4 linked regions of the Homo sapiens genome follow. The protein of the gene in region 1 purifies or fractionates together with the protein of each later gene. This does not show direct contact. Each region holds a gene or a part of one and is shown in the gene's direction. Other genes may lie near its edges.

What was found.
Region 2: the proteins of SHC4 (region 1) and AMD1 purify together in Homo sapiens (affinity purification with mass spectrometry; 2 studies listed by BioGRID and IntAct, with this or other methods). This does not show direct contact.
Region 3: the proteins of SHC4 (region 1) and NBEA purify together in Homo sapiens (affinity purification with mass spectrometry; 2 studies listed by BioGRID and IntAct, with this or other methods). This does not show direct contact.
Region 4: the proteins of SHC4 (region 1) and GAREM1 purify together in Homo sapiens (affinity purification with mass spectrometry; 2 studies listed by BioGRID and IntAct, with this or other methods). This does not show direct contact.

The regions. Positions count from the first base shown.
Region 1 is NC_000015.10:48,883,589-48,891,387, reverse strand, and holds part of SHC4 (SHC-transforming protein 4), read left to right. Parts: intron 1-576; coding exon 577-640; intron 641-7,020; coding exon 7,021-7,140; intron 7,141-7,799. UniProt on the Homo sapiens protein: Activates both Ras-dependent and Ras-independent migratory pathways in melanomas. Contributes to the early phases of agrin-induced tyrosine phosphorylation of CHRNB1.
Region 2 is NC_000006.12:110,870,316-110,877,987, forward strand, and holds the start of AMD1 (S-adenosylmethionine decarboxylase proenzyme), read left to right. Parts: upstream 1-4,469; 5' UTR 4,470-4,790; coding exon 4,791-4,900; intron 4,901-7,672.
Region 3 is NC_000013.11:34,937,348-34,945,525, forward strand, and holds the start of NBEA (neurobeachin), read left to right. Parts: upstream 1-4,922; 5' UTR 4,923-5,473; coding exon 5,474-5,767; intron 5,768-8,178. UniProt on the Homo sapiens protein: Binds to type II regulatory subunits of protein kinase A and anchors/targets them to the membrane. May anchor the kinase to cytoskeletal and/or organelle-associated proteins.
Region 4 is NC_000018.10:32,467,717-32,475,807, reverse strand, and holds the start of GAREM1 (GRB2-associated and regulator of MAPK protein 1), read left to right. Parts: upstream 1-4,925; 5' UTR 4,926-5,379; coding exon 5,380-5,500; intron 5,501-8,091.

The DNA.
Region 1 (7,799 bases):
AATTTGATATTGATTTCTTTTCTTCTGTGAAATTACATGAAAGCTCAATGGCTCGCAGCAGCAACCTAGTCAATAAAACTCCATTTGAGACCACCTTGAAGTTCAACGTTCTCCCGATCCTTTTAAATTTTCTCGTGTCAGGTTCTTTTTGCATTTAATTGTCTTTAGTTCTGAGATACTATGAAGCTTTTTATTCATAACATTACAGAGATGATTTTGCTAAAGATAAAACTGCGAAGTATTTCCAGATGACAATGCCCTGCCCCTCCTTTTTGGTTAAAAATCAACAACACAATAAACAAAATCTGAAAACCCAAGGAAAAACAGAGATGAAAAAAGCGAATAGTAGAGCTCCTTGTTGTAAAGCAATTGCTCAGTATTAGGGTGCTGCTAGGTTTTCCTGCAGAAGGAGTAAGTACAGCATTTCCTCCTGTGGGGCTGGGAGAATACCATTTGTGTTAGACTCACTATTATGTATGTGTACTTTTTGGTCGTGATAATTTCTAACATTTCTTAAACACTTACTGTGTGGAGGTAGTATGCTAAGTCTTTATTTATATGGTTTCTGTTCTTTAGGGAAGCAATAAGTCGCCTGTGTGAAGCTGTCCCCGGGGCAAATGGAGCCATTAAAAAGCGAAAGGTAAATGATGATGTGGTTTTCTTGTTTATGTTTCCCTAATTATGGCAAAGATAGTATGAAAATCGCTGTTCGTTCATCCCACCATATGACCAAGGTCCAGCCTGGCCTTTATTAGGTGGCGTGATATCAGAGCTGCACTCAAAACTGCTCTTGTCCCTCAAATCTTTCCGAGTTGCCTGACACTGTCCGACGTGGTGATACCTCCAGCTGCAGAGGGGAGAAAGCCCTGGGCTTTATGTCAGAAATGTAGGGTGCCAGAGTTGGCTGTTACTGACCAGTGAGCATGGGATCTCATCTTGCTGAGACTCTGTTCTTATTTCCTGTGGAGTTAGGGAGTTGCACTAAATGGCCAGTTTAGTGCCTTCCAATTTCCACATTTTATAATGTATGTATTCTGCATTATAACATTTTAGACTTTTTAGGCTTCCTGGCCTATTTTCTAGTATAAATATGGATAGTGGTAAAGGTGAGGTAATAGCACATGGGTACAGTAGCTTTCCCTGTGGAAAGAAAGCAAAAGTTTTGATGTTAGACAGACTCGGATTAAAGTCCTGCCTCAGCCACCTACAAATGGTGTACTCTTGGACAAGTTACTTAACCTCTTGGATCCTTGGTTTACTCATCTGTAAAATGGGAGAAAATAGCACTTACTTTATAGAGTTATGTAAGAAATAAACGAAGTGATGTCTACATACTATCTACCACAGCGTCTGGCATCTATTACACTTTCTGTGTTAATGGTAGCTAGTATTATTGCTATTAAGCTATGAGCCCTAGAATATTTTGTTGGTTTGAAAAGTCCAAAGGGCCAATGCAAAAGCTCTTGAGATAACTATATAAATCATATAGAATTGCAGACTGTTTAAGGGAAGGGTTTTTTGTTTTTGTTTTGTTTTTTGTTTTTGAGACGGAGTCTCGCTCTGTTGCCCAGGTTGGAGTGCAATGGTGCGATCTCGGCTCACTGCAAGCTCCGCCTCCCGGATTCAAGCCATTCTCCTGCCTCAGCCCCCCGAGTAGCTGGGACCACAGGAGCCCGCCACCACACCCGGCTAATTTTTTGTATTTTTAGTAGAGACGGGGTTTCACTGTGTTAGCCAGGATGGTCTTGATCTCCTGACCTCATGATCCGCCTGCCTCGGCCTACCAAAGTGCTGGGGCCACAGGCGTGAGCCACCGCACCCGGCGGAGAAGGGTTTTTTAAGAGATCTTCTGGTCTAACCTTTTCATTTTGCCAGCTACTAAACTGAGTCTGAGACAAGAGATGATATTTGCCTGAGTCACTAGGATGATTAAGGTCAGAGCCAGCTGTAGAAGCCAAGTCTTCAGATTCCCAGCTTAGGGCTCTATTTCTATACCATTCTGCCCCATTTTTGGTTATCATTCTTCATTATATTACATAGGGCTGAACCCAGTGTCACCTAGAGAATCCACACGGTATGAAACATTCTGACAAATGGCTCTTAAATTCCATCAAGGACTCCCTTTGACTAGTTTCTTTCACAGAACCCATGGTTCCAAAGTAATCTCTAACCTCTTCCTGCTTCTCATAATTTCTGATTAGGATGCTTCAACTGGATGATTCCAGCTACCAGGCAAGATATTCTCATTTAAGGAGCAGGGATTCCCCATCCCAAAATAAAACAGAGCAAACCTGGCTATCATCTATCCGGAAAGTACACTTGCAGAGAAAAACAGAAAAGCAGCTAGTTTCCTTCAACAGCTGGCATGTATTGAGTACTTAGTATGAGCCAGGGACTCTTTCCAGCACTTTAGGCTTTTTTCTTTTCTTTTCTCTCCACTTTATTGTGGTAAAATATCCATAACATAAAATTTACCATCTTAACTTTTTTTTTTTTTTTTTTTTTGACAGTTTCACTCTGTCACCCAGGCTGGAGTGCAGTGGCTCACTGCAACCTCTGCCTCCTGGGGGTTCAAACGATTCTCAATGCCTCAGCCTCCCGAGTATCTGGGATTGCAATCATGTGCCACCATGCCTGGCTGATTTTTGTATTTTTAGTAGAAATGAGGTTTTACCATTTTGGCCAGGCTGGTCTCTAACTCCCTGGCCTCAAGTGATCTGCCCATCTCAGCCTCCCAAAGTGCTGGGATCATAGGTGTGAGCTACCACTCCCAGCCTCATCTTAACCCTTTTTAAGTGTACAGTTCAGTGGTATTAAGTACATTCATATTTTTGTGCAGCCATCGCCATCATCCATCTTTAGAACTCTTTTGATCTTGCAAAACTGAAACTCTACACATTAAACAAGAACTCCCCAGTCCCCTATCGCCCCGGCCCCTGGCAACCAAAATTCTACTTTCTGTCTCTATGATTTTGAGTACTCTAGGTACTTCATATGAGTGGAATCATACAGTATTGGTCCTTTTATGACTGGCTTAATTCACTTAGCATAATGTCCTCAAGGTTCATCCATGTCATAGCAGATGTCAGAATTTACTTCCTTTTTATGGCTGAATAATTTTGCATTGTATGTATATACCCATTTTGCTTATCTATTCATCTGTAGATGGACACCGGGTTGCTTCCACAGCTTAGCTATTATGAATAATGCTGCTATGAACATGAGTTACAAAATCTTTTAGAGACCTTCCTTTCAATTATTTTGGGTATATACCCAGAAGTAGAATGGCTGGATCATGTGGTTATTCTATTTTTTAATTTTTTTAGGAACTGCCATACTGTTTTCTACAGCAGCTGTATCATTTTACATTCCCACCAATAATGCACAAGGGTTCTAATTTCTCCATATTCTCACCAAGCCTATTCACATTTTCAGTTTCTTTATGATTTCATCTTGATAGGTATTCTAGGAATTTGTCCATTTCATCTAGATTCTCCAATTTGTTGGCATACAATTGTTCACAGTAGTCTCTTACAATCCTTTTTATTTCTATAGAATTGGTAGTAATGTCTTCACTTTCATTTCTGATTTTAGTAATTTGAGTCTTTTCTCTTTTTTGCCTTAGTTCATCTAGCTAAAGGTTTGTCAGTTTTGTCGATCTTTTGGGAGAACCAACTTTTGGTTTAATTAATTTTATCTATTTTTCTATTTTCTATTTATTTTATCTGTGTTCTAATCTTTATGATTTCCTTCCTTCTGCTAGCTTTGGCTTTTGTTTTTTTCTAGTTCCTTAAGTTACAATGTTAGGTTTTTGACTTAAGACCTTTCTGCTTTTTAAATAAAAGTGTTTATATCTATGATTTTTCCTCCTAGCACTCACTGTTTTCACTGCATCCCATAAGTTTTGGTATGCGGTGGTTTTTATACTTTGTTAATCATCACAAAAAACCTAGCCACTAGTGTTATTATTTATCCCCATTTTACAGATGAGGAAACTGGGGCCCTGAGAGGTTAAGTAACTTGCTTAGTGGCCCAGTCAGTGTATGGAGGAGCTAGGTCAAGCCCAGGCAGGCTCCAGCATTTACACACTTAATCACAATGTTATCTGCTTCCTTGCCAAGCATCTGCCCTGGGGGGAGGGAGCCAAAAACGATTTAGGACCAGTTGAATATAGTCAGATCTTTGTTTGATTTCTTTAGATCTGTTAGATACTGCATCATTAGCAGTTTGGAGTGCTAATGGAAAAATGATTTATTCATTTATGTGATCTCCCATGAGTTTTGAAGTCTAAAAGTTAATGAATAACCAAAAGAACTGGGGGTTCCTGAGAGACTATGCGACATAGAGTAGAAGAGCTAGGCTGCTATGTCAGTACAAATAAATTGACCCAGATATAGTCAATTAATGTTTCCCTATCTTAATACTTTTCTCGTTTGTAAAATGTGGATAAGCACCTCTGCCAGGCCTGCCTCCACTCTTTAGTAAAATTTGGTCAGTATCCCATCCTCAGCCTTCTCTTTCTGTTCCCTTCTCCTCTCATTCCCATAATGACCTCTCCCAAGGCCAGGGTCTGCAGTTTCTCTTTCTCGAAGGAGAAATCCTACAGCAAAATTGCCAAAATTCATTTTAAAAGTAGTAATTATAACCACTACAGTTTGTTAGCACTTCGCTGTATACTATGCATTTCCATATACTTTATTATTAATACTAAATTTGATTCTCCTAAGATTCCCATGGCTAGAGGTGGAAGAATGGAAGTGATAGTAGTATTAATCCTGTTTGGTAAACAAAAACATTGAGGGGGTTCCGGAGTTGTCTAAGGTCCCTTGACAAGTTAGGATCAAACCTGGGACTTGAATTCCAGTTGCCTCACTGCCCATCCTGTGTGCTTTCCGCTCCTTTTTCTTCCATCGGTCTTTTAACTGTTAGGACATTTCTAATGATGGCATGAAAGACTTTGTCTCCTATATAATAAATACATTTTGGACATTTCTCACGAGATTAAGGTTATGGTGAGAACAAAATTAAGATGATTTACGTAAAAGTTCTTTACAGATAACAAAATGCTTTTCGACTGTGAGACAGTGTTATAATTTAATTTGTATTTCATAATAATATATATATATATATTTTGAGACAGTCTTGCTCTGTCGCCCAGGCTGGAGTACAGTGGCCCAATCTTGGCTCACTGTGACCTCCGCCTCCCAGGTTCAAGCGATTCTCCTACCTCAGCCTCCTCAGTAGCTGGGATTACAGGCATGCGCCACCACGCCTGGCTAATTTTTGTGTTTTTAGTAGAGACGGGGTTTCACCATGTTGGTCACGCTGGTCTCGAACTCCTGACTTCATGATCTGCTCACCTCGGCCTCCCAGAGTGCTGGGATTACAGGCGTGAGCCACCGCACCCAGCCTCACAATAATATTTTTTAAACTAGCATGGAAAAGAAACTCTAGAGAAGCAAATGAGCAGCTTGCTGTTAAATAAAATCACTGTGGGAACACAAAATCCCTGAACTGTGTGGCTCGCTTTGCCCAGAGCTGTGTAAGAAGCAAAGAAAGTAGACCAAGAGTCAGCTTTATGATGTGGTGATAGCTGTGAGGTTGAGGGCTCCTTCCTCACACTGTTTGCACTACATTTTAGAATGTGCTTGGAATTAAAAATAAAACTGTACATTAAATTTCAACAGTGTGTGTTTAACAGTTTGGTATGGCTCCAGAATGAATCAAATGAGAGTAATATAAAAGCAAAACTAGGAAAGAAACAAATTGTGTTTTCATTGATTGCCTTAAAGTATTGATTCATATGCTGAGGAATTACTGATTTCCATCATCTGGTCCACTTTCCAGTAGAGGATTTCAGGACTTAATCCAAGCATCCATCAAAGCATTCAAATCTCTCAAATGATTTCTTAGAATTTTTAATGTTAGGAAGGGCAAAAATAAGTAATAATAATAATAACAGCTCTCATGTAACCAGCCAAATACTATGCTAAATGTTCTCTAGTTATTATTTAATCTTCACAACAGCCCTTATGAGGTGGCTACTGTTTTTCCCCCCACATTTTATATAAAAGGAATTTGAGGCTTAGAAAGTTTATTTGTCTAAGGTCATCAGTTGGTAAGTGGCATTTCTGCCTGAGGAAATCTGCCAGCCCAGCCTCTCGCCCCCCTGTTGGTACCTTTTTCCTGACATATGACCCCAGTGCTTTTCTTTATAATTCCTGGGTACCCCCTGCTCTCATGATTCTTCACCACACCCCCACACTTCTTCTCCTTGAGAAATGACTGGTTCAGAATTTTGACTTTTATCAAAACATATCCCTTTCCTCAGGATCTGCCTCTAAATCTCTATTAGTAATTTCTGGTAAATCATCTTTATTAATGAGTTAATGTGGAATGGGCTAACCCCTTCCTAGTAATATTTGTTCAGTTTAACAATTGGGACCTTCTGAAAACAATGGTTTAACCTAAAAGGGTGCCCAGTGGTAGAATTTCAGGCATCATGATTATCTGAAGGTAACAATTAGACTAGTAGAGAGGACTTTTTAACTCTGGGAAGGGAAAGATGAGGGAGGAACAGGGATGGCCTCAGAGAAGGAAGCAGTTACGTAATTGGAGAGTTCATCAATGCCTTCTGTGGCATTAGATTCAGTGGATTGTCAAATTTTTCTTTTTTTAGATTTGTAGTATTGAAAAGGACTCAAGAGTTCAGCTGGTCTAAACTCTCACAGGAATTTGTTTACATTAAAGCAGGAGCCCACTCCCAGCACCTGGGGAGGAGAGAAACTATGAGAAAGTTCTGAGGGCCTAAATTTCACTACTTAATAAAGAATTCGCTGCATCCTAATTTAAAAAAAAGTTTATTTAATAAAAACCATTCCCTTTCATTTGATTTACATAAAGTAAAATAGAGAGGAAGAGTTTGGACTTTGACTCATTTTTAACATTTAAAAAACATTAACATTTATTCTGTAACAAAATTCCTAACAGTGTTTTGTTTTTCTTCTTTAATTTTTAAAGCCTCCAGTTAAGTTCCTATCAACAGTCCTTGGCAAAAGTAATCTTCAGTTTTCAGGAATGAATATAAAACTGACCATCTCAACATGCAGTCTCACATTGATGAATCTTGACAACCAACAGGTAAGATCACAAATGTCATTTATAGATAAACATATCTATTTTTTCAGAGAAGCGTGGGGATAATGAAAAGAATAAAGTTTTAGACAGAGTATGCCTACAACCTAATACAGCACAAGGGAAAAATCTGCTGAAGATTTATGCATAACAATCATTAGAACAACAGCATTACTAACCCATCACTGGAGCATGTAACCACCTACATAGGTGTCCCTACCTAACTGGCTTTGAATGAAGAACTAAGTTGCAAAGAACATAGAAAATATCATTTAGCAACTCATATCCTTGAATTGGTCATTGATGTCTCCACCAACCCTCCCCAAATGGATAGCAATTCCGTTATCACAACTAACAGACTGTGTGTTGGGCCAGGGTACAGATGAGGGACAAAGGGGAAAGGTGATGTTGGGGTTAATGTTCTAGCGAACTGAAATTTAAGCAGAAAATATTTTCTTCCAATTCTTGTGGTTGAGAAGCTTTCTAAAATGTTATTGTATAAAAGGTAATGTTTTCTTCCTTAATAATTTATGGTACTGTGGTGTGCCTGAGTTTTCATTGTGAACCTCATTTCTCAAAGAACAGCATTGCTGAAGCAAATGTAGAAGATACGTAGGCATTGGGCTAAATGTGTACCTAAACCAGGACATTTTGTTTGGCTTGCT
Region 2 (7,672 bases), on another chromosome or scaffold:
TACTTGGTCACTTTAAATTGAATCTAAGGCCAGGTGTGGTGGCTCACACTTGTAATGCCAGCACTCTGGGAGGTTGAGGTGGGCAGATCATCAGTCCAGGAGTTCAAGACCAGCCTGGGGAACATGGTGAAATCTGGTCGCTACTAAAAATACAAAAATTAGCCAGGCATGGTGGCACTTGCCTGTAGTCCCAGCTACGTGGGAGGCTGAGGTGGGAGGATCACTTGAGCCCGGGGAAGTTGAGGCAACAGTGAGTTAAGATGGAGCCACTGCACCCCAGCCTGGGTGACAGAGTGAGACCCTGCCTCAAAACAAAAACAATAACAAAACAAAAACAACAAAAAAAGTTTCCATATCTTGTTTTTATAAGGAAAGTGGTTTTTGTTCCTTTCTTTTTTTCCTCTTCTTCCAGGCTAGACTGTGGACAGATTAAGCCAGCTTCAATAATGAGAATAAAGACTTTACTCTATGGTCAAAATGGGTTAGAAGGAACCTGGTTCCCTGAATGATCTCATGGAACAGAGCTGCCTACTCACCCTAGACTACCTGTCTACCTCTGTACTGTTATGTGAGAGAGAAATAAACCTTAATCTTTGAGTTATTGTATTTGGGGATCTCTTTGCTATAGTAGCTTAGTGACTTCTCAGAAGAGGCAACATTTAAGCTAAGATCTAAATGACAAGAATGAATAAGCCATACCAAGAGGGAGAGAAAGAGCATTTCAGATAAATGAAAATGACCTAAAGGGAGACAGGTCAGTACGGATGGAGTACAGAAAGTGAATGGTAGAGATGAGGTTGGAGGATAATTAATTCAGGACCAAATCAAATAAGGGTTTGAAGGCCAGGGTAAGAAATTTTGATTTCAATTGTAATGGGAAACCCCTGGAGAATTTTAATAAGTGTCATAATTGGGCTTATTTTTTAAAAACATCATTCCATCTTGGGCTATGGAGACATTTAAAAAATTAAAACAAAAAAAATCACTCTAGCTGCTCTGTGTTAAACCAAGTGAGGTGGCAAAGTGAAGACAAACACTACTATAGTTAGAAAGCTACTGCAATAGTTCAGGGGAGCTAATTTTGTGCTCTGAACTAGGGTGGTGGTAGAAATGAAGACAGAGAGAACAAATTCTTGAAATGTTTTAGAAATATCAACAAGGCTAATGATGAGTTGGATGTAGGACAATGCAGGAAAGAGTGGAATCATTGATGATTTTGAGTTTAAGCAACTGCTGTATAACGAGGTGATTTGTTGTGTAAAGGGTGGACCATAAAGAGGTAAGAAGAGATAAGAGTGGAGACAAAGAGGTCAGTGGAAAGCTTGAGTTGAAGACAGCTGAGTTTTTGTAATTTGTTTTGCTTTTGTGGGGAGGAGGCAGATTTTGCTGTGAAAAGTAACAGCTCTTTTCTAATAATGTTAGCTTCTATATGCTTGTTAGGCATTCAAGTAGTCAGGCAAGTGTCTCAAAGGTTTGAAATTCAAGGGAGATGTCTGGGTTGGAGATATAAATTTGAAAGTCATTAATACTATGGGCAGGTCATAAAGCCATGGACTGGATGAGGTAGGTCACCTAGGGAGAAAATGTATGTAGAAAAGAGGACACAGGCATAGCCAAGAGCACTGCAGCATTGGGAAGAAAATTTCCAAGGAAAACCAAAAAAGAGAGATGTCACGAAAGCCTGGAGACTTTTTTCTAGAAGGAAGGCATAGTTAATTGTGTCAGAAGCCATTGAAAGATTGAGTAAATGGGGATTGAGACCATTCACTGGTCTCAATGGCTTTGGCAACCACTGGCTTTGGCAAAAAGTGGGCCTTGAGAATTGCCATTTCAGTCAAGTGCTAGGAATAAATACCCATTTGGAGAATTTGAAGGAGAGATGAGGAGGTAGGGACCACACATATAGACATGTCTTTACATCTTTTAGGGAGTTTTGCTGTTAAGGGAAGCAGAGAAATTCGGTGATAACTGAAGGTAGAAGTGGGGTCAAGTAAGGATTTTTTTAAAATTTGAGTAAGATCTTAATAGGAATGATTACTAAAGAGAATAAAGGGAAGATGTACAATCAGAGGTATCTTAAGAAGGCCTAGTGAATGGGAGTCCTTTAAGTGTTTTATGTGCAAAGTGCTATAGCCAATGAGGCATTTTTAAAAAACTGGAAATCTGGGGGAAAGATGGTCACTCTTGATAGAAATGGGGCTGAGAAGGGAAATCATTTTAGAAATAATGGTAAATGTATTTTGGACATATTGAGTTCAGGAAAATATTTAAGCAAAGATTAACCAACTTAGTACAAGGGATTTTTATTTTTATTATTTCTATGATCTGAAGAGAAACCAGAGTATACAAGGAATTTTGAGCTTCAAGATAACAAGAAAAATGATATATTTTACAAAGGACCAATCCAGTTGGTAGACTATTTAAATTATCCTATATCAAATTAATAAGGATTTACTTTGCCAAGATTCTTGGCACTTTTATATTAACTTAAATTGCACTGGGAAAAAAGCATAATAGTAGTTGAGAAGCAACTAATTATAAGCAATTATAAGCCAAATTATGTTTATACCACAATTAGTGTTTGAGGTGGTTTAGTAGGCAGATTCTTCAGTAAGAACCATCAAATAATTGAACAGCTTGTAAAACACAGAAATACTTCTTTTATCTTTATTCCAAGTAGAGTAACCACATTCTTTTATCATTATAAAATAAGCAACATTTATTATCTTTTGTCCCAATCCGCAGTTTGAGTTGGATGCTTATAAAACATGGCAAGAGGGCTGGGTGCGGTGGCCTCCCAGCACTTTGGGAGGCCGAAGTGGGCAGATCACCTGAGGTCAGGAGTTCAAGACAAGCCTGGCAAACATGGTGAAACCTCGTCTCTACTAAAATACAAAAATTGGCCGGGTGTGTTGGCATGCACCTGTAATCCCAGCTACTCGGGAGGCTAAGGCAGGAGAATCGCTTGAACCCAGGAGGCAGAGGTTGCAGTGAGCCGAGATCACGCCACTGAACTCCAGCCTGGGCAACAGAGCGAGACTCCGTCTCAGACAAACAAAACAAAGCAAGAGTAGTTTATGTACCTAGCTCACAACATAGCTTCTTTCAACAGGTTTCACGGAGACACGTGAACCACGTTCTTGTAAGACAAGAGCTATTCTACAGGGTATCTAGAGTGCAAACCCAAACCATGTCTTTTTCAGTGGATTTTTCATGTTGACATCATCTTATTTCACTTTGGGGAAAGTTTTTTTCTAAGGATGATAGCGAAAAGTCCTTTTGTCTTGTGACAATAGCAATTTTTATGTCAGCTTGGGTTTTTTTCCTCCCATATTCCCAAGTAAAAGTAATAACTTTGTTACCAGTTTTGCCATCTGAGGTTAAACTGTTTGACCATGGCTTGACGACTATTTTATACTTAACACTTATAAAATATTAGACTGATAGTTATTTAAGTTACCACCAGTGATAGCTCTGGAATCCCTGTTTTATTAATTTCCAGGTAAATCCTTCTTAAGCACATGGGAAGATAGCACTGTAAATTTTGGGGGGTAAGGAGAACCTCCATCAATTAATACATCAGCTTGATAAAATTCAAAGAAAAACATGATCAAATAAGTTCAGATTATATTTAACACATTCAGTTTCTAGAAGTAGTTTTGCTGAATAAATTCCCACCAGTTGAGCTAATGGAGCAACGGAGCTGCCAGTGCTTCCCGGAGGCTGCTGTGCTCAGCCAATTCGGAGGCATGGCGAGCCACACGGTGGGAGGTGGGTAAAGCCGGGGCCCTCCAAGGCTGGGCGCCACGTTGCTTTTCTCTTCTGAAATAGGAAGACAATGCTTCTGGCTATTGTATAAACCAGCCGAGGACTGCTTTCATTCGCACATCAGCCAAGGCGTGAGCAGAATTAAAGCGCCTTCTAATTCGACCCCTGGCAACGTGCGCGTCACGGACAAATGTTTAGTTTTAACGCCTGGCTGCGTTCGCCTTGGGAAAACACACTTTTAAGAATGGCCAAGTACCTCAGCAGTCGCGGTGAACTGCACAAGATCAAAACCACCACGCCAACCCAGCGCTGGCCACCGTCCCCGCTGAACCCCGCCAACACCCCTAAGGACCCACCCATGTTTTCTGCTAATCATTTTTTTTTTCTAAACAGCTCTGCACAGCCTTTCCTCATTCCGTTCCCGCTCTCCCCACCCACTCTGCGTTCGATCCGAGGTTTCTAGTCCCCAGCTGGACATCACAGCACCAACTCCCACTCAGGAGCCGGCCAGAGCCCGAGCCGCAGCGCAGTGGGCAGCTCCCCGCGCTCTCCGCCAGGCCCTCGGCCAGCCAGCCGCCACTCGGCCGCGAGTGATTGACAGGCGGCAGCAGCTATAGGCCGTGGAGGTGGGACGATGCGTCACTTCCTGGTCTTTTGGGGGGAGCCGGGATATATAAGGGCGGTGCTCACGCAGCGCTCTCGCTTACACAGTATGGCCGGCGACATTAGCTAGCGCTCGCTCTACTCTCTCTAACGGGAAAGCAGCGGAATACAAGAGACTGAACTGTATCTGCCTCTATTTCCAAAAGACTCACGTTCAACTTTCGCTCACACAAAGCCGGGAAAATTTTATTAGTCCTTTTTTTAAAAAAAGTTAATATAAAATTATAGCAAAAAAAAAAAGGAACCTGAACTTTAGTAACACAGCTGGAACAATCCGCAGCGGCGGCGGCAGCGGCGGGAGAAGAGGTTTAATTTAGTTGATTTTCTGTGGTTGTTGGTTGTTCGCTAGTCTCACGGTGATGGAAGCTGCACATTTTTTCGAAGGGACCGAGAAGCTGCTGGAGGTTTGGTTCTCCCGGCAGCAGCCCGACGCAAACCAAGGATCTGGGGATCTTCGCACTATCCCAAGGTGGGTCCCCGGGGCGCTCGCTGACATCCGGGCCTGGGGGCTGTCGCCGCCGCCGAGGCACCAGCCACGGGTGGAGCCCGAGTTCCCTCAGCTTTCAGTTGGGGGCAAGTCTGCGGCCTGGGGTCGCTTCGGCGGCCTTGGAAGGTGCGCGGTTTGGGGGAGAGCGGCCATGTCCACGCGGGCCGGAGCCGGCTTCTCCCGCCGTGGTTGCCGCGCCTGGCATTGCCCTGGGGGAGGGGAGGAGGCCGGCGCGGCCGCGTGCTCAGGTAACGTCCCGCGCTGGGCGGCGGGCGGCGCGGCCCGGGGTGGTTTTGCGGCCCGCGCCTCCCGACATTTCCCTCCGTAGTAGTTGGCGGCAGGGGCCCCAGGTGGGGGTCGGGGGCGCCTGCGCGGGTTGCCTCCGGCAGGTGTGGCTCGGCGGGCTTAGTCAGGCGCTAATTCGGGCGTGCCGGCTTCGGGGAATGGAGGGCGGGAGCGGCGCTTGTTCTTGCCTCGGGCGCGGATAGGAGGGGCCCTCCCGGCCTTGTCTGAGGGGCTGGCGAAGAGGCCTCCCACCCGCGGCGGCCGCGGGCAGCATGTGGCGTTCGGGCGGCGGGGATTGGGCGGGAGCAGTTATGTCGCAGTGGCGGGGCCCCACCGCTCCCCTAACATGCTCTGCGCCAGAGCCTTTTCGGGGCGGCTGGGCAGACGGCGCAGTCCCCGGGGCCGCCCTCGACACGGCCGCTGAGGCCGCTGGGGGCTGCTCCCCAATCTCTTGACCTTGGGTTGTGTAACCTGCTACGGAGCCGGCGGAGCGGGGCGGGAGAGGTGCGGGTGGAGGGAGGCCCGCCTGCCCCAGGACATAATGCCTCTAATGCCTTAAGCTTGAGCAAAGGAATCTGGGGCCCACTCCCACTGCGGGCCGTCACGCGAGAGATACTTGGGCTGACCGCGCCGAAGAGGCGTTTTAGTTGGTATTGCTGTGGAAATCCATGCTTATATAAAAGCCCAGAGATCCCGTGGATGCTTAGGCCTTGTTCCTGGCGGCGGTCGCACCGGTGGCCACCAATGGCCTTCCTAGGCCCTGCCACCGGATCCCTGGCTCCTCTGCGCACGAGTGCGGCTAGGGTGGCGGTGCAGCGGAGTAACTGGCGTGGCCAGCTTCATTGAGAGGCGGCGACCAATGGGCTCCTGGGCCGCACTCAGAGCCTGGCCCCAGGGTGTGGACCAATGGGCGTTTTAGGAGTGTTAGCTGTTCTTGGAGCTGTCCCTTGACAAAAAGCAACTGGAAAAGGGAATCCAGGCAGACACGTGCTACCGAGACTTTAAGGCACGACGGGAAACCCGGTTTCTAGCAGTGTATCTTGAACGATTCCATTGTAGAAAAAAATACTAGTCATAGCTAAAATGTCACACGTCTCATTTTTTTCAAGCTTCGTGTGACACTTAAAATGTCTATAGCGCTTACTACGTGCCAGGCTCACGTGAGATTATAGGAAGCGGACTTTGGTCATGGAGAAGCTTAGTATTTCCTTCATTTCACAGATGAGAAAGATGGTATTTGTGATAGACGTTTGGTAAAACGATTGTGATCAGGATAATTAACCTAGAAAATCTTGGCAAGAACCTAGAAAATCTTGGGTAAGAACAGTCCTAGAAAACGAATAACAGAAGTTGTCACTTTGGCTTTTTAAATGTTTGAGCCCTTAAATAATAGTAAGTACATGTTCTTAATAAAGGGAAGAAGATTTTGTTCTCCCCAAGTTCTTGGCGGTTTGGCTGTTTAGAGCTTCCTGAGTCAAAGTGGAGAGAGGAGGAAGAGGCTTTTTACAAAGCAGCCTGCTTTCTTTAAATGTTTAAGAACCCTTTTTACTTTGTACTTTAATCAGCCCAAATTGTTTTACTGCTCCAGTGTGGCTTTTAAAATCATGGCCAAAGTTAAACTTTGAAGGACAAAATATTCCCTTGTGTAGATGATTTAGTGCCATCCATTTTGTGGACATGTAACATTCATTGAACAACTATTGGTAGTACACTGCCACATTGTAACTGTTGTAGATAAAGCAAGTTAAGCAAGAACTGAAAAATATGTTGATTTAACTAAGGTCCCGTGATAACCTTCGTTGGAACATTTTTCAGTGACCACTCAAGTGGTTAGGTTATTTACCAGGATGTTTAAAAAAGCCTGAAATAGTAGGTGTTCCTTGAATCACCTAAAATCAACAGCCTAGCAAAGAGAGTATCATGGACGGAGTCCGGTCGGTGGGGACATGGGGCCAGCCCCAGAGACCCCAGGGAAGGATAATCGGTCATCTAGAAGAATAAAGCGTGACATGTTTTACTCAAATGACGTGATTAAGTGCATAGCCTCTGGAATAACAAGATTTGAATTCAAACAGCATTTAATAGCTGTGTGAGCTGTTTCCTCATCTGTAAAATGGAGACAATAATGGTACATAGCTCATGGAAGTTGTGAAGAATAAATAAGTTAATATGTTATATGTAGTACGTAAACTGTTATCTTTAACACTTTAAAGACAGGATCCCTCTATAGCCCAGGCTGGAGTGCAGTGGCAGGATCATGGCTCACTGCAGCCTTGACCTCCTGGGCTCTATTAAGATGTGAATAAACTAAAAGTAGGTTAAAAGATGAACAGATGGAATTAAACAAATCTGTTTATAAAGCATAATAAACATAGGGACATAAAAACGATTAAGAGAATGAAAGGCTTAAATGTCCAAAGAGAGCATTAGTATTGATGCTAAAGACAAGGATAACAAGATAAGGATATG
Region 3 (8,178 bases), on another chromosome or scaffold:
AATTCAAGTCCCCAAGGCAGGACAAATTGCATCCACTGATCCTAAAACAATCTGAAAACTAGATCACTGAACAACTCTCAATGGTCTTTGAGGAGTCATAGAGAACTAGGAGTGCCAGAGGATTGAAGTGCTAAAGGCAGGGTGAGGTTAATTCTCGAAAATCCATAGCAAGTAGCTTAATATCTCCAAAGCAAGTAATAATACTTCACATCAATATATTTTCATTTAATTTTGCTCAGATACAGAAACAGAGAGTATCCAGACTGCAGCTAGACAGTTGTCAAGGTCCCTTACGGTATCCTTTGGTAAAGCCAGAGGAATATGTGTGCTAGTTATCAGCACACTATGGTAGCTAATTTATTATTGAAGGAGTATGCTAAACAGGTGCTTATAAACAACTTAAATCAGTTTTCAAACTTTTTGACTACAATTTGCAGTAAGAAATACATATTACATCATTACCTAGTAAACATACATATGTATTTTTATGTACGTGTGTGTAATTAAAGCAGATCTTATAAAATGGTACTTACCCTTACAAAATAGATTTTGAAATTTCTCATTATGTGTGTTTCTATTCATTTCATTTAAAAAAAACCCTGTTGGTTGCAACCCACTAAATCAATTTCATGACTCCCTATTAGGATGGGACCCACAGTTTGAAAAACGTGAATTGATTCAAGCAGAGTGATACTGGTGACTGCTGAGCTGTTTTCATCCTGTTCAATCAACATTTGAATGGAGGTATAGAAGGAATGCTCCCAAATTTACACATAGACTAATAAGACAATAAATTATTTGCATGATATAATCAGGATTAAGAAATTCCTAGCAGATGAAATTTAATGGATAATTAAATAGAAAATTTGTATTAAATAATCTTTTTTTTTTGTTTTGAAACAGAGTCTTGGTTTCTTGCCCAGGCTAGAGTGCAGTGGCATGATCTCTGCTCACTGCAACTTCTGCTTCCCGGGTTCAACTGATCCTCCTGCCTCAGCCTCCTGAGTAGCTGGAATTACAGGTGGCCACCACCACACCTGGCTAGTTTTTGTATTTTTAGTAGAGATGGGGTTTCACCGTGTTTTCCAGGCTGATCTTCAACACCTGACCTCAAGTGACCCACCTGCCTTGGCCTCCCGAAGTGTTGGGATTACAAGCATGGACCACCATGCCTGGCCTTAAAATAAAATTTAAATTTAAATTGATATGTTCAATTTTGTACTTATATCTCAAAATCTACATGTAAAGCTACAAATTGTAGATATGCTGCTGCTAAAAAAACAGTAATAACAAAAGAAAACGCCTTAGTTTTTCAGGTCGATAATTATTTCATGCAGAAGCTATTGTGATTAATAAAGTAAAACTCTTTATTAATCCTAATTAATCCTGATGGTCTAATCTGTCCATCAAGATGGACCTTTACGAAGATTACCCATGTAAGGATGGACTGGAGAAGAGTGAGTGTGGAAAAGAGGAGACCAGGTATGAAGTGACTGGGATCTGAATCAGGGTGGCTGCAGTGAGGATGAAAAAAGTGGGATGAATGCGAGACCTATTACCAGGAAGAATGGGCAGATCTGTAACTAATTTAATGGTGATAATAATTTCAATATGAGAGGAGAATGGAACCAAAATTATTTGAGAACCTACTACGTGCCAAATGTGAATCATTACTACATTACACGAATCATTAGTGTCATGTTAAGAAAAAAATCCAAAACCAAAACAAACCAAACAGATCTAATTTGATTTGGGGCAACATTAACAGGAGCTATATTGCTAAAGGTTGAGGGTGAGGTAAGAATTTCCCTCTGTTTTATACAGGTCTAAACCCACATTGAATTTGGAGTATTCTGTTCAGATAAAGTTTAGAGGAAAGCAAGAAATGTGTTCTTTAAAGAACAGGTGAAGGAAACGGGAATAGTGTGGAGAACGGCTGTTTCCATCCATTCATTTTTGAACATATTTATTCAATGTAAATTATGTCAGGCAAGGTAGGTGCAAAAAAAAAAAAAACCCAAAAATAATGACACAAAATAACTGTGGGTATTTTCCGGCAGCCAATGAAGGGAAACATTATTGATTGCCACTTACTACTACATTAAGTACGTTAAATGTATTAGCTCCTTTAATCCTATAAAGTAGTATTATCATCCTTACTTTGGGTTGAGTAAACTGAAGCTTTGAAGCTAAAGTCATTTTCCCAACATCACACATATAAGTGGTGGTGGAACTAGAATCTAAATCCAGCTTCCATTGAATCTGGGGCATGACTTCTCAACCTCTCTGCAATATTGCTTCCTGAAACTCAGATTCACAGGTTTCTTATCTTTGAATGATTGTCCTTAGGAAGTATGGGTATGCAAAAATGCATACAAAATTAATATTCACCACATAAAATATATTTTTTAATCTGGAGATTTAAAAATATACATATTGGGTATCTTCTATTATTATGTAGCTTTTCTTTCAAAATATTGTTAATGTAAATGTAAAGTTATTTGCACATTTTCCGGGAAAAGGTTTTGTAGGCCAAAAAGAAATAGACCTGTTGACTTTTCTGAACTTTATGCTTTTGGGATGGTATGGAAGACATATAACTGTGCAATTATGCAGACTTGTATGTGGTTATAATTGGTATTACATGTGTTTATAGGTCATGCAACACACATGCCTGTATACTAAGGACACAAAGACACATTGACTATATGCTAGCTGCTCAGCTGAAATTATTTTATGGAATTCTTACTTCCCTATGAAACACATATTATCATTCCTACTTAAGGAACCAGGAGACTGAAACTCAAATAGCTTGAGTAGACTGCAAAGGTAGTAAGTTGTAACTATGACTCAAAGAATCATGCACTTTCCACAGTATCATAGCGCCTGCGAGGAGCTGATTGTCTACTGGAGAAAGATTTTTAATTGGTAAGCTCTTTTAAATATCTCTGAAATTGAATTAAGTAGGCAAAAGAAGTGGAGTTTTCCTACTTAGAAATGGTGATATTATCTTTACCCACTCACTATCTTCACTAAGAAAAATGAGCAGAAAAATACAACCAACTGCATATACATACTACTTAAGAAAAAATACAAGAAAAATCAAAATGGAAATGTTAAAAATGATGTTAAGCTATTCATTCAGAAAGGAAATAGAAAGTTCAGGTTGTCACTGTCTCTCAAAGTACTCATGCAAGAAGTCTAAAAATAGCAAAAGGTAGAACCTGCTGCCATATAGATATATGCACAGTGGGTAAAAAAACTTAGTGTGACAACCTTTCAGTCTAGATTTATGTATTTTACAAAGATATCATTTTAAATTTGCAAATGAAACAGTACTCTTAAAAGCAGATGATACTCACTTGGGACAGACAAAAATGTAGTAGAAGGATATAAACGTTACAGGATTTTTCAATTATATAGTATATCTCAAGTCATACTATTATGACTTGTATGTTTTGTAAATTTCCCGTACAGTTTCAAGCATTCTAGCATTTTATAATTCAATTGCCATTTAATTTAAATGGACATGCTAGTTACCACTGCTTTCAGAAGTGTTTGCTTAACTACTTTAACAATTCAATCACTTTGGTGCAAGTTTAAACAAACAGACATGCAACCAAGAATTCATCCTAAGTACTGGTTTTGAGGAACTTTTTTATAACCTGTGGTACTTAGAATTTTACCGTGTTCCCATATCCTGGGAGTTAACTTGACTGGCAGGTCCAATTAAATATGAATAATAACAAAACTGATTATGGTGGATTTGTATATTGACCTTTTTCATTTGAGAGGACAATTAAAACGATCTGAATATACCTCAAGATACCTAATATTTCTGGTGACTTGCAATAATCTTTATTGAAAAGGGAAGACCTCATGAAATATTAAAGAAAATTATATCATTCCTTTCAAGGAACAGTCATGCCTATTTAGTTTTAATTCAATACTAACAGCAAGATTACTGTGTACATTTTAATTTTTAAAAATTAAAGGTTTATTTTTTGTCTCGTATCTGTGCAGACATAGATATGTACTTTTCTCACAGACAAGGCTGGCAGTGAGAATCACCCATGTTTTTAGATAATTTCGAAAGTCCTCTGAATTGTACGTGCCTGTGAAAAAAGGAAACATTAATAATTGGCATCATACCTGAGGATTGTCAGGATTTTGAAAGTGTGGGATTTGTCGTTCCCACCAAACTACCCCACAGTGTCACACACTGCAGTCTTTTTAGGCTGGGAGGCGAGTTCAAGAGCTGTTTGTTGTTCCGAGCTTGATCCAGAGAGGATCACTGTTTGACAAGTTCTATTTTAAGTCGTGCCTGAGTGTGCAGGTGTCAGCCTCTTTCATGGCTGTAGAAAAAGCACCATTACACTCCGTCTGTATTCTTCCCCCGACAATGCAGGATCGCCCCCCCGCCCCCCCGCGCGTTTGTTTCTGCTTTGCCAGCCACTTTTTCTTTGGGAAATTCTAGGGAGGGCAGGCGGACAGGACTGCGAGGAAGGGCGAGGAGGGGCAGAAAGAGGTCGTCTGCCACTCCCCTACCTTACAAGGCACGTGGCACTGGCAGTAGCAGCAGCTGGATGCAACAACTGAGATGAGGAACCTCCTCCCAGCAAGAGGATATTGAGAGAAGGAGGAGGTGGCAGCGAAGGCAAGACATGCACACTGTGTCCTTCCCCAAAGGGAGAATCCGCCCTCAAGGGAAAAACCACAAGGAAGCCACTACCCGCCCCGCCTCTGCCAGCTTGCCCCAGTGTCTGGCAGCAGTCCCCATGCACCTGCTCACCTGTCTATCCGTTCGGGGTGGTTGGGGGAGGGACGAGGGGTGTCGGGGTGGGTGGGTGGGAAGAGAAGGAGGGCAGGGCAAAAGAGGGGGTGCACCGAGGGCTCCGCCCCCCCGGAGGCTGTGCGCAGGCGCAGTGGCTGCTACCGCAGGCAGGGGGCGGCAACATGGCGGAGTGAGCGGCGGCGTCGGGGCTTCACAACAACAGTGGTGGCCGTAGCAGCGGCGGCAGCAGCGTCAATAGCATCGGCCACAGCCTGAGCTTCAGCACCGGCCAGCGTCGTGGCCAGCTGCTCGCGTCCTCGGGCTTCTCGGAGCGGCTGCAGCATCTCCGCGGGGGGCGGGCCGGGCCGGACAGACCGGGAGAGGGAGAGAGCAGAGGCAGCGGCGGCGGCAGCGGCAGCGGCAGCGGCACACCTGCTGGGCGGGCACAGCCGCTTGCCCGGCAGCGGTTAGCGGTACCGCCACCGCCGAGAATAAGCCTGCGGATCCCCCGCCGCCTCCGCGGGGGAGAGCGCCGGAGCGGGCCGGGCTGAGGCGCAGGCGGGGAGCGGGCCCGGCGCCGCGGCGCTGGTGGATGCTGGGGCTCCGAGGCGACGGCCGGGGGGCGGGGGCCGAGGCAGGTATAACGGTACCGGCGGCGGCAGCGCCGCTGCTCTTCCCTTCTCCTCAGGAGGGGGGCCAATGGCTAGCGAGAAGCCGGGCCCGGGCCCGGGGCTCGAGCCTCAGCCCGTGGGGCTCATTGCCGTCGGGGCCGCTGGCGGAGGCGGCGGGGGCAGCGGTGGTGGCGGCACCGGGGGCAGCGGGATGGGGGAGCTAAGGGGGGCGTCCGGCTCCGGCTCGGTGATGCTCCCCGCGGGGATGATTAACCCTTCGGTGCCGATCCGCAACATCCGGATGAAATTCGCAGTGTTGATTGGACTCATACAGGTCGGAGAGGTCAGCAACAGGGACATCGTGGAGACGGTGCTCAACCTGGTAAGGAAAAGGCGTGCTCTCAATCTGCTTCCCCAGTCCCCACATACACCGTCCCCAGCGCCTTTCCCTCCCACCCTTCACCCCCAGGGTCACACGCGCCGCGCGTCCCTGGGAGCGCAGAGCGTTCAGCCGGTATTGCCCAGCGGGTGACCTGCCTGCGCGCTGCTAGAGCCACGCCACCTCCCTCCTCTCCTCTTTCTGGTCCTCTCCTGCCACCTGAGCGCAGTGCCCAACTTAACACCGCTTCTTCTCACTTTTTAGGACCGCGAGTAACCCAGTACCCGCGGTGAAGGTTTTGGGTCGACTTTAGAGTTTAGTTAGGAGGTGAGGAGGCCTCCTGTTCTCTGGGGTTCTTTTTCTCACACTTAATTGTCCTTGGTGTCGCTCTCCGAGGATGACAGCCTTGCCCCTGGAGCCTAAATTCCCCCGTGCTGCTGAAATGTGAGAAGCGCATTAGCTTCCAACTTGAGCAGCTGGGGTGTGATGTTTTCGAAGGAGACAGAAAATGATGCAGTTTTGCATCTGTCTTTAAATATTCCAAGGCCATGATGGAGAGTGTTGTGTCTGTATCCATCCCCCTCCATCTCAGAAGCAGCCGTCCCTTCTTTGTAATATTGCCCTGAATATACTGATCTCTTAGTCATTTTTTGTGCACACAAGGTGTGTGAGGACACCAAATCACACAGGTTGATTTCTGTGGTTACTTTCAGTAGTGTGGCATGTGGGTAAAGACTAAAGGAAAGGTTTTAAACGCAGCCCTAGGTTTTGGTTCCTTTCATGGTAAGAAAGAGTTACTGCAGAAGTGTGTATGACTTAATGTTTTGCGCTATCTACAGAGAGGCTCAGAAGCGTTTAAGATGTCAGGGAAAGAAATGGAAAGAAGGAGAGGAGAATCATACATTGAGGATAATTAACAGTAGTTCATATTTAGTGCTTTGTAAATGGAGGTTTTGTTTTGTTTTGTTTTGTTTTTAAATGCAGCCAAGCTTTTTAAACAGTTTTCTCTGCAATAGATCTAGTCTTTGACATACTGTAAGGTTGGGCTTTGGGAGGCAAGACATAAATCGAGAGCAATCAGTTGAGTATTGTATTTGGTGTGGGGTCACAGGAATATAACAATATGCTTACAGGGGTACTTTGTAACACCCATGCAGTCATTTTTCAGCTAAGCAATTATTTTTACTTACTCTATTGGAAAACTGAGAGAAAGCTGCAGCTACATCAGTGGTGTCCTGAGACATGCATTAGATAATGTCTACGGTTTATGAACCTCGTAAATGCACAGAAAAGTTGAAGCTGTTTTTTTCCTTTTGCTAGTGTGTCAGGTCAAAGGAGATTATCTGTCTTTGTTATATTCATTGCTGTTTAAAACAAAACACCTCTTTTTACTTTTTTGTACCTTTCAAATAAATCATCATGAAAAGTCAGTGTAAGTTTGAGGGAATGTCACTAAGTTGATATAACCAAGTTCTTTTCAGAACACTACTAGAAATACAGTTTTCTTGAGTTTTAATTTTAACTAGCTGCAAATAAGAGGTCAGTACTTGCCATTTCTTTTTAAAAGAAGATAAATCTCAAACTGTTAGTATGTTAGCAGGTAACTGTATTTCTGTAATTTAAAGGAACACATTTTTAGTTGCAGTTTTGATCTAACCAATATCATTTTTAAGTTAGATTATATTAGGCTATTTTAGTAAGTATTCCTATGCTTACTTAATACATTTTAACCTGGTAAGAGGCAGTAGAGCTTTCACAACCTGGAAACTGATTTGAATGTATAACCAGTTTGGACTCTGCAGCAGTAGCAATGTGTGCTGAATCAGTTCTTAACAGATGGGGTTTTTTAGATATACGGTAGACTAAGAAAGGAAGTGAAATGTTTCTCTTGAGATAAAAAAGAAATTTAACTCTTCAGAGCAATGAAAATCTGACATGAAGTTTCAGTATGCAGACGTTATTTTAGAGAACTTTACCATTAAGCTTAGAGTCACTAGAAATAAAGTAATACTGAGATAGTATATCCCCAAATCTACCTAAGATTTTGTAACTGCAATGATATTTGGAATTTAAAGAGTTAGGTTTAAAATTTCTTTGTATGTATTTAAAGAATGCAATAGATTTTTAAATAGAAACTTTTGGAGAAAAGAATAAATGACAAAAGGAGCTGTTTATTACTAAGTTGTTAATTATATTAATTGTGGAGTATAAATTAGTCATTTGAAGTGTAATTTTCTTGAACTGTAGATTTAGGGCTTTATTGTCCAATACACTCATGAAAATGTCATATGAAAATTTAAGTGGATTCTCAAAAATATGTGGAAGTCATGGGCATTTAAAAAACTGATTATCAAACTTAATTCTATTTATTTAGTAAGTAAACCAATAAAATTCATATAGGACACTCAGTGACT
Region 4 (8,091 bases), on another chromosome or scaffold:
GATCCCCAGAGCTAACTTGAAAGACAGTCCCTGGCTAATGCCTTTTGCAGTATCTATATCCTCATTTTCTATGAAATTAAGTGTAAAGCCCTTGGCATGGCATAGAAGGTTCTTCCCTTACGTGGCTGGGTCAGGGTATCAAATGAAGAGTTCGTTTGGGTTTTAGAGTGGCTTTCTGATTTGAGTAGTCCATTGAAGGAGAGAATTTGAAAGCTGTTCTATACTCTTAATGACTGTCTGCACATGTCCTGCCTGATACCATGGTTGTTTATGAAAAGTATCTTTTTTTTTTTTGAGACGGAGTCTTGCTCTGTCGTCAGGCTGGAGTTAAGTGGCGCAATTTCAGGTCACTGCAACCTCCGCCTCCTGGGTTCAAGCGATTCCCCTGCCTGAGCCTCCCAAGTAGCTGGGATTACAGGCACGCGCAACCATGTCTAGCTAATTTTTTGTATTTTAGTAGAGATGGGGTTTCACCATGTCAGCCAAGATAGTCTCGATCTCCTGACCTCGTGATCCGTCCGCCTCGGCCTCCCTAAGTGTTGGGATTACAGGCGTGAGCCACTGGGCCCGGCTGAAAAGTATCTTAATAAAGCTGGATACAAGGTCAAGCGTGGTAGCTCCCAGCACTTTGAGAGGTCTAGGTGGGTAGACTGCTTGAGCCCAGGAATTCAAGACCTGCCTGGGCAACATAGCAAGACCTGGTTTCTACAAAAAATAAAAAAGATTAGCCAGGCATGGTGGCATATGAGTGTAGTCCTAGCTACTTGGGAGGTTGAGGCAAGAAGATCACTTGAGCCCAGGAGTTGGCGGCTGCAGTGAGCCATGATAGTGCCACTGCATCCAGCCTAGGCCACAGAGAGAGACCCTGTCTCAAAAAAATAAATAAATAAAATAAAAAATGAAATGAAAAAATAAAGTAAATAAAATTTTAAAGCTGTATACCATTTGGCTTGGGGAAAAAAAGGAGTTGCAGTGACCTACAAAATAATATAGAGTGAGAAGTTGACTCAGTGCATTGATTACTCAATTCAACAAACATTAATTGAGCACTTGCTGTGTGCCAGGCATGGTAATAGGAGCTGGTAAAACAGAGGTAAAAAAAAAAAAAAACTCTTTGTGTCCACAGTCAATTGTTGTCTAGTAGGCAAAGCTAATATAGGAAGATAATTAATCAGAGTGCAACTAGTACAGTCAAAAGAGGGTATTGCAGGTGCAATGGTAACACAGAAAAAGGAATCTCCTTGGAGGAGGAGATACAGCAGCTCATGGAATGCAGGAAGCTGGAGCTGGAATGAAGTTTTCACAGTAAGAGAAAAGGAGAAAGGCATTCTAAGCTGAGAGAACAAGCTCTACAAGGGTATGCATTACCATGATACATTTGGGCAACTACAAGCAGGTGCTACCCCAGATCATAGGGTATTAGAAGGTAGCCAAACAGGAGTGAGGTTAGGGAGGCAGACCCAGCCACATAAGGGAAGAACCTTCTACGCCATGCCAAGGGCTCTACACTTAATTTCATAGACAATGACGATATAGATACTGCAAAAAGCATTAGCTAGGGACTGTCTTTCAAGTTAGCTCTGGGGATCACATGGCAATTAAGTGAAAGGGGAAAGAATGGGGAGACCTAAAAAATCACTAGGGCTGTGAACTTTGATATTGCACTTGACTGCTAGAATATTATGTGAGCCAGGACACTCTGATATGAGGAAAACCAATATGTAATATTTTTATCTTGCAAAGCTGATAATGCAGAGAATTAACAAGTTATGCATGTATAAACAGTAGACTCACAGTTAGGAAGCTGGCAAGTGTCTGTCACTTGAGTCCTGTAGTGTCATTTACCTGATTCACCTTTGGGCTTATCAATAGCATATACAGAGTCTTCATGATCACTGCCTGGGTCTGCTGGGTAGGAGGCGGGTTCACTGTGGAATAAATTAACCCCACAGACTCTAGATTTGCAATGAAGTCCCCCAGCTAGGTTTGTCATTTAAAAAGTGTTCTTCTACTCCTTGCCTGATATAACTATTTTCCCAAATCTAATCATTTCTTATTTTTCAAATCTATTCAAATCGTCAGCATTTATCTCTTCATCTTTTCTATAAATTTTGCCCTTTAAAGCCAATGGTTTTTAATAATAATAGCAAATGTTAATACTTCCATAGCACTTCCTATGCATCTGGCACTATTCTAAATGCTAAATGTATATTAAATGATTAAATTCTCATATCAACCCTATGAGATGAGTACTATTATTATCTTCATTTTTCAGAGGAGGAAACAGCAAGTTTCCCATGACATTAAATAGAAGCAGAGCCACTAATCAAATCCAAGCCATCTGGCTCTGGAGCTGATATTTTAATTCACAAATCTCAGTTTGTAAAGGTACTTAGTAGGAACAAGGGACCAGTGCATCAATTGTTGCCTTAAAGAAAACTTTTCTTGGATGTTCCTTTTCATAAACTTCAAAGTCCTGTAAGCTTTGCCCCTGCACCAAGTTGTAATGCTTTTGTATACACAGTTTGCATTGTTCCAACAACCTTAAGAAACATGTTTGGAAGTACAGTTCAGCCAGACTGAAAGATTACCCCTCTCAACTGCTTTTTGTTTTTGTTTTCGGCAGTTTAACCAAAACTCTCCATCTCACAAATAAAATCCTTCTGTAAGAGTTCTTCCAGGACATGAAACTTACTAAGAATTTGCAGCTCACTAAAATTTCTTCCTTTTAATACTCAAGATTGAAATAAAACCTTTTCTGCAAGGTCAGCAATAACAGATCTAATGTAAGTCCTTTATTGATTTTTAAAAAGTTGATTACATTAATCTTTTTACTTTTTATCTTGTCTTTAGGTCAAAAGTCACCAGTCCTTTTGTGAGAGGAAACTACTTCTCTTATTCTCTGAAGCTTTTAAAGAGAATATAAAAGTAACAAAGTCATTTTTTTAAAAATCAGCCTACCATATAAGGGTTTAGGATCTACTTACAGGTTGAAAGACCCTTGACCCTGCCCAATCTTAGATGTTTCCTATGTCATTTTTGGATTCTGAGCTTTATTTCCAGAAGTGATTAATTATTCAGAAAAAGAAATTAGCTGGCACTTAAATCTTTAAAGTTTTGAAACTTTTTTTTTTCAGACAGAGTTTCGCTCTTGTTGCCCAGGCCAGCGTGCAATGGCACGATCTCGGCTCACTGCAACCTCCGCCTCCCGGGTTCAAGCGATTCTCCTGCCTCAGCCTCCTGAGTAGCTGGGATTACAGGCACCTGCCCCCACGCCCGGCTAACTTTCTGTATTTTTAGTAGAGACGGGAGACGGGGTTTCACCACGTTGGCCAAGCTGGTCTCAAACTCCTGACCTCAGGTGATCCGCCCGCCTCGGCCTCCCAAAGTGCTGGGATTACAGGCGTGAGCCACCGCGCCCGGCCGAAACACTCTATGTGAGCAATTCTTAGAACTTTATGGACTTCTGATTCTGCATACACTCTATAGTAAAATACTTCCCACTTTTTTCCAAGACTTTTTCAAAAAATCAATGTGAATGACCCAAAGGTCAAAACTTTCAGATGAATTTTGTGAAAATTATCGCTAATGCTTCAAAGTGAGAGGATCAGGAAGGTGGGTGTAGAAGAATCTGTGTTTTTCTTCAAATGTTAATGGAGTGGTTTATTAGCACAGACCTTTTAAGCCAGGCCACGAAAAGGCAGCGGGATGTTTTCAAGTCCCCTTGGGCTGGCGAAGCGGGTACTTGCTGTACCTTATCAAGCACTGAACATTGAATACGTGTTGAAAACAGAGCAGATACGCAACCTTAGCAACCACTCACCTCTGCTATTTTAACAAAATGTTAAGCAAGCGAAAGAAAGAGAAAGAAAGACAGAAAGAAAGAAAGCAGATTAGCATACAAGGCAGGACATGCCACCTTTATATTCTGAGCTCTGTCCACAGTGAGCAGGCCGTGTCAAACATCGGGAGAGACAGAGAATGATTGATCATGCAAAGCAAACTGTAGGTTTGAATCCCAGCACGGCCATCTACGAGTTATAAAATCTTGCCAAACTACCTAATGTCTTGGTACATATACCTAGAAAACGAGAATGATCCCAACCTTTAAGATGAGAAGAGAACTGAATGGGAAAAGCGGGTGAGAACAGCTGACCCCAGCAGCCTCCCAGTAACCTAGTTTTCCCTTCCCATCTCCGTGTCTACGGTGTTTGGTGGCCTCATCAACTCCCGTCGCCTCCAGCAGCTCGTTCACTCAGTGAAGGTCCTAGACCGAATGGCCACCTTCCTGTATGTGGGTACTCATCACCCACCACCTTTCCGCTTTTCGGTGCTTTGCCCTTTTTATCTTATCTAGTAGCCAAAGCTGAGACTGTTGGGAGTCATTTCCAGCTCCGATGGTAGAGGAGTAGGGTTGAGGGGAAACGCCAAGGCGTGCTCCACGCCTGCCGTCCGCAGCCCCGTTGGGCTGTGGTACTCTTCTGACCAAAGTCTGGGTCACCGGGAAGCAAGAGGGAGCGCCACTAAAGGTATCTTTTGTGCCTTGTATTTAGCCACCGCATTGCCAGGATGGGAGTGGAGGCGGACGGTGCCCGACACCACGACTCAGGGAGCGATACCTGAGCTCGCTCGGCAATTCCCGGGCTCCGGGGACGGGCCTGGGCGGGGAAGGAGCCGGGGCGCGCAGCAGCACCCGGCGAGACTGCAGGGCGCCCGAGTGGTCGGACGGGGGAGCGAGAGCTAAAGCTTGCGGAGCGCGCCGAGCCGCGGGCGCTGGCGGCCCCGGCCGGGGAGCTGACGCGAGCCTGCCGGGCCGCGGGAGCTGCGGGAGGCGGAGGCCGAGCTGGGGGCGGAGCGGGCGGCGCCTGGGAGGCGGAGGCGGTGTCTCCCAGAGCTGCGCAGGCGTTGCTCGCACCTTGTTGATTAGTCAGTGCTGGGAGCGCTGCTATGGCGTTTCTCAGACCCGCGGCTCCTCCTCACACGCTCGAGGCGGAGGGAAGGAGGGGTAAGAGGAGGAGGAGGCGAGCGGGCGGCCGCCGCAGCTGCAGACCCAGGGCCAGAGGAGGAGGCGGAGCGGGAGCCGCCGCAGCCACCCGGGCCGCCGCCGCCGCCCGCAGCCGCGCGGCTGCTCTGAGTCTTCTCCGGGCGTGAGGGCACGCGGGGCGCCCCAGCCATGCCCCGCAGCGGCAGCTGAGCCGGGCGCCGGCCCCCTCCCTCCGGGCCGCCCCAGTCGCCGCGCCCCCCCGGCTGCCCGCGGCCGGAGCTGCCCGGCGCCTCCCGCGCGCCCCAGACCGCGAGCGCGAGCAGCGGCGGCCGCCGAGGCGCGGGTGGTGCCGGTGGCGGCGGCGGGGGAGCGCGGGACAGGAGGCTTCGGGGAAGATGGACCCGGCGCCCTCGCTGGGCTGCAGCCTCAAGGATGTGAAGTGGAGCTCGGTGGCCGTGCCGCTCGACCTCCTGGTCAGCACTTACCGGCTGCCCCAGATCGCGCGCCTGGACAACGGTGAGTCCCAGCTGGGGCGCGGGGCAGACGGGCGAGGACAGCCGTCTCCACGCGGGTGTGCGCGCGTGTGCTGGAGAGGGTGGGACCCGCGGGGAGTGGGCTGCCCGCCCCTGAGCGCCGGAGTTGGCCCGAGCGGCTGCCGCAGCCCTGGCGCGTTGCTCTCAACTCCCCCCAGCAGCAGACAAGGAGGTGGAAATCAGAGTCCTTGCAGTATAATTAAAAAGGACGCCCTAAAAAAAAAGTCAACATAGGGAGACCTCTGCAGATCGTAATCTTGGACGCCAGATATCCCTCCCCACCCTCCTGCAAGAATTACTCAACCAGGGAAACCCTGAAGAGTTATCTTAGGCAACTTTCTTGAGAATATCATTGTGCTCCGGGTGGCATCTTAATTTGGGTGCTCTCCTCCCTATCTCCCCCATCCCCCGCCAAACAGATTTAAAGGAAAAGCTCCTGGGTGACCATTGAAAAGGATCACATTTCTCAGAGACCTTGTATTACAGCTTGTCTGTTTTGTTTAACCCAACTGAAAGTAATTTGGGGCTGTGTGTAGAAAATGTTTTCAGCAGAAGTGATGGCATGCTTAAGGTTAACTATTAGGTTTAGCGCATTTCCAGTCTGGAAAAAAAAATAAGTCTCCAAAACGTATTGATTCGGAACCTGAGCTCAGAACTAAGAAGGGTGTATTTCCTGAAACTGACCACCAGAAACCCACCCAACTCCTTCCTCCAACTGTTTATTCTGCGGTGTGACAGCTGCAAACACATAGTTGCGCATACTGTCAAGCAAGTAGACACCTTTCAGTTGGAGAGTGATGACACGTAAGGTGGCAATTTAGGTGTGTTTGGTCTTCTCTTGTTTTCATCATAACTTCAGTGGGCTTTGGCGTCATGCGATTTTAGACTGTTTGCAGAAAGAAGCCTGCCCTGCTGTGGGGCAGCTGTGGAAGTACACGGGCCCAGGCTGGCAGGCAGGCAGAGCTGTGACTACACAGGCCAGGTCAGAAGAACACTAAGCAGAAAGATGTCATTTCGAGTCACAGGCACTAGGGTTACTCCTTGTTTCCTGGGGTAGAAGAGTGGGTAACGTGAGATGTATACATACACAAAGGAGTTTTTATTCTGTTTCTTATCTGTGGGGTTTGATTAGACATTTGTATATCTGATGTGAAAAATAGATGCAGGAAAGTTCGTGAAGGCTGGAAAACAATCTTGGCTTGCTTGCTATCCTCGTTTGATTGTTGGTAGTAGTAGGGTGCATTGGGAATAAGCTGGAAGTTTTAAAACTAGTAATGAAGTGCAGATCACAGTAGCTGTTGAAGCGGTGGGGTGGGGGCGGGGGGGGGGGACGCACAGGTGGTGTGTTGAGGCGTTTCTGCTTCGAGTGGGGGTGGGAAAATGTTGTGTGCTTTAAATAGCATCTGCAGACCTGAACTGGTGTGTGTGTTTGTATTCACAGCGTTTCATTTCCTCCTCCAAAATTGTGTATATTGGCAGATTGTGAGTCCTTACCTTTTCCTACCTTCTCTCATCTCTGCACACTGCCACATTTGCTAGCTAGGCAGAGAGCATTGCTGCATGTGGTGTAAAAGCCACTCAAAAGCTTCATTAAACTGAAAGTTTAAAGGGGTGGAATATCTCACTTTCCGACATGACTTTCAGTTTTATTTCCCACTTTTCTATCCCTGCCATTCATAAAAAGGATCTGAATCAGCAGTGTACTCATCCCACACTTCTTTCTAAAATGAGGACGTGGGTAGCAAGTCTTAACACTGTGTCCTTTCAAGCTGTGGAATGGATTTTGATCACTATATGTAATTCCAATTCTTCATTGTAAATTTCTCTTATTTCCTTATTGCCGCTTGAGAATCATAGTGGCACATACAAATTTGGAATCATTGCCAGATACTGCTTTATACCTTGCTTCTTTCACTTAACAATCCCATCTCATTTAAATATTTTTGTCAACATGATTTTTAATAGCTGCCAAAGAGTCCATGGGCTAAGCTATGCCAAGTAATTTCATCCCCTATTGTGGACATTATTAAGCTGTATTATTTTGTGCTATTAAAAATTGTGATGTAATGAATACTGTTGTACATACATCTGGGAGTTTTTTGGTTAGAATGTATTTCTACTTTGCTGAACAAGCATGTCAGTCCTATTAAAATCCTTGATACACATTGTCAAATTGCTTTAGAGACTAAAGGAAATCCTCGTTTACACCAACGTGAGCATTGTGATAGTATCAGTCTGCCCACATCCTGAAAATATTAAGTATTTACCAAAAAATTCTCTTCTAATTTGATTGGGGAAAGTGTTGTTATAGCAGTTTAATTTGGGTAGACTTTAAAAGAGTCAATCATAGATTCTTTGCATGTTTTTAAACATGTTTCACACAGTTTAGGACAGGTTGAGGACATGCTGGTATATTTATAAATGTTATAGGTGAAATCTTAAGTTTTGTGTTGTCCTCATCCTGTGTTTGCCTTTTCCCCAGTTTTAGTACTGCAGGTACATTTTACATCTGCACACGCCCACCCTATACTTAGACATGAAAGATAGTCATTTTTCAAATCACTTGTTTTTAAA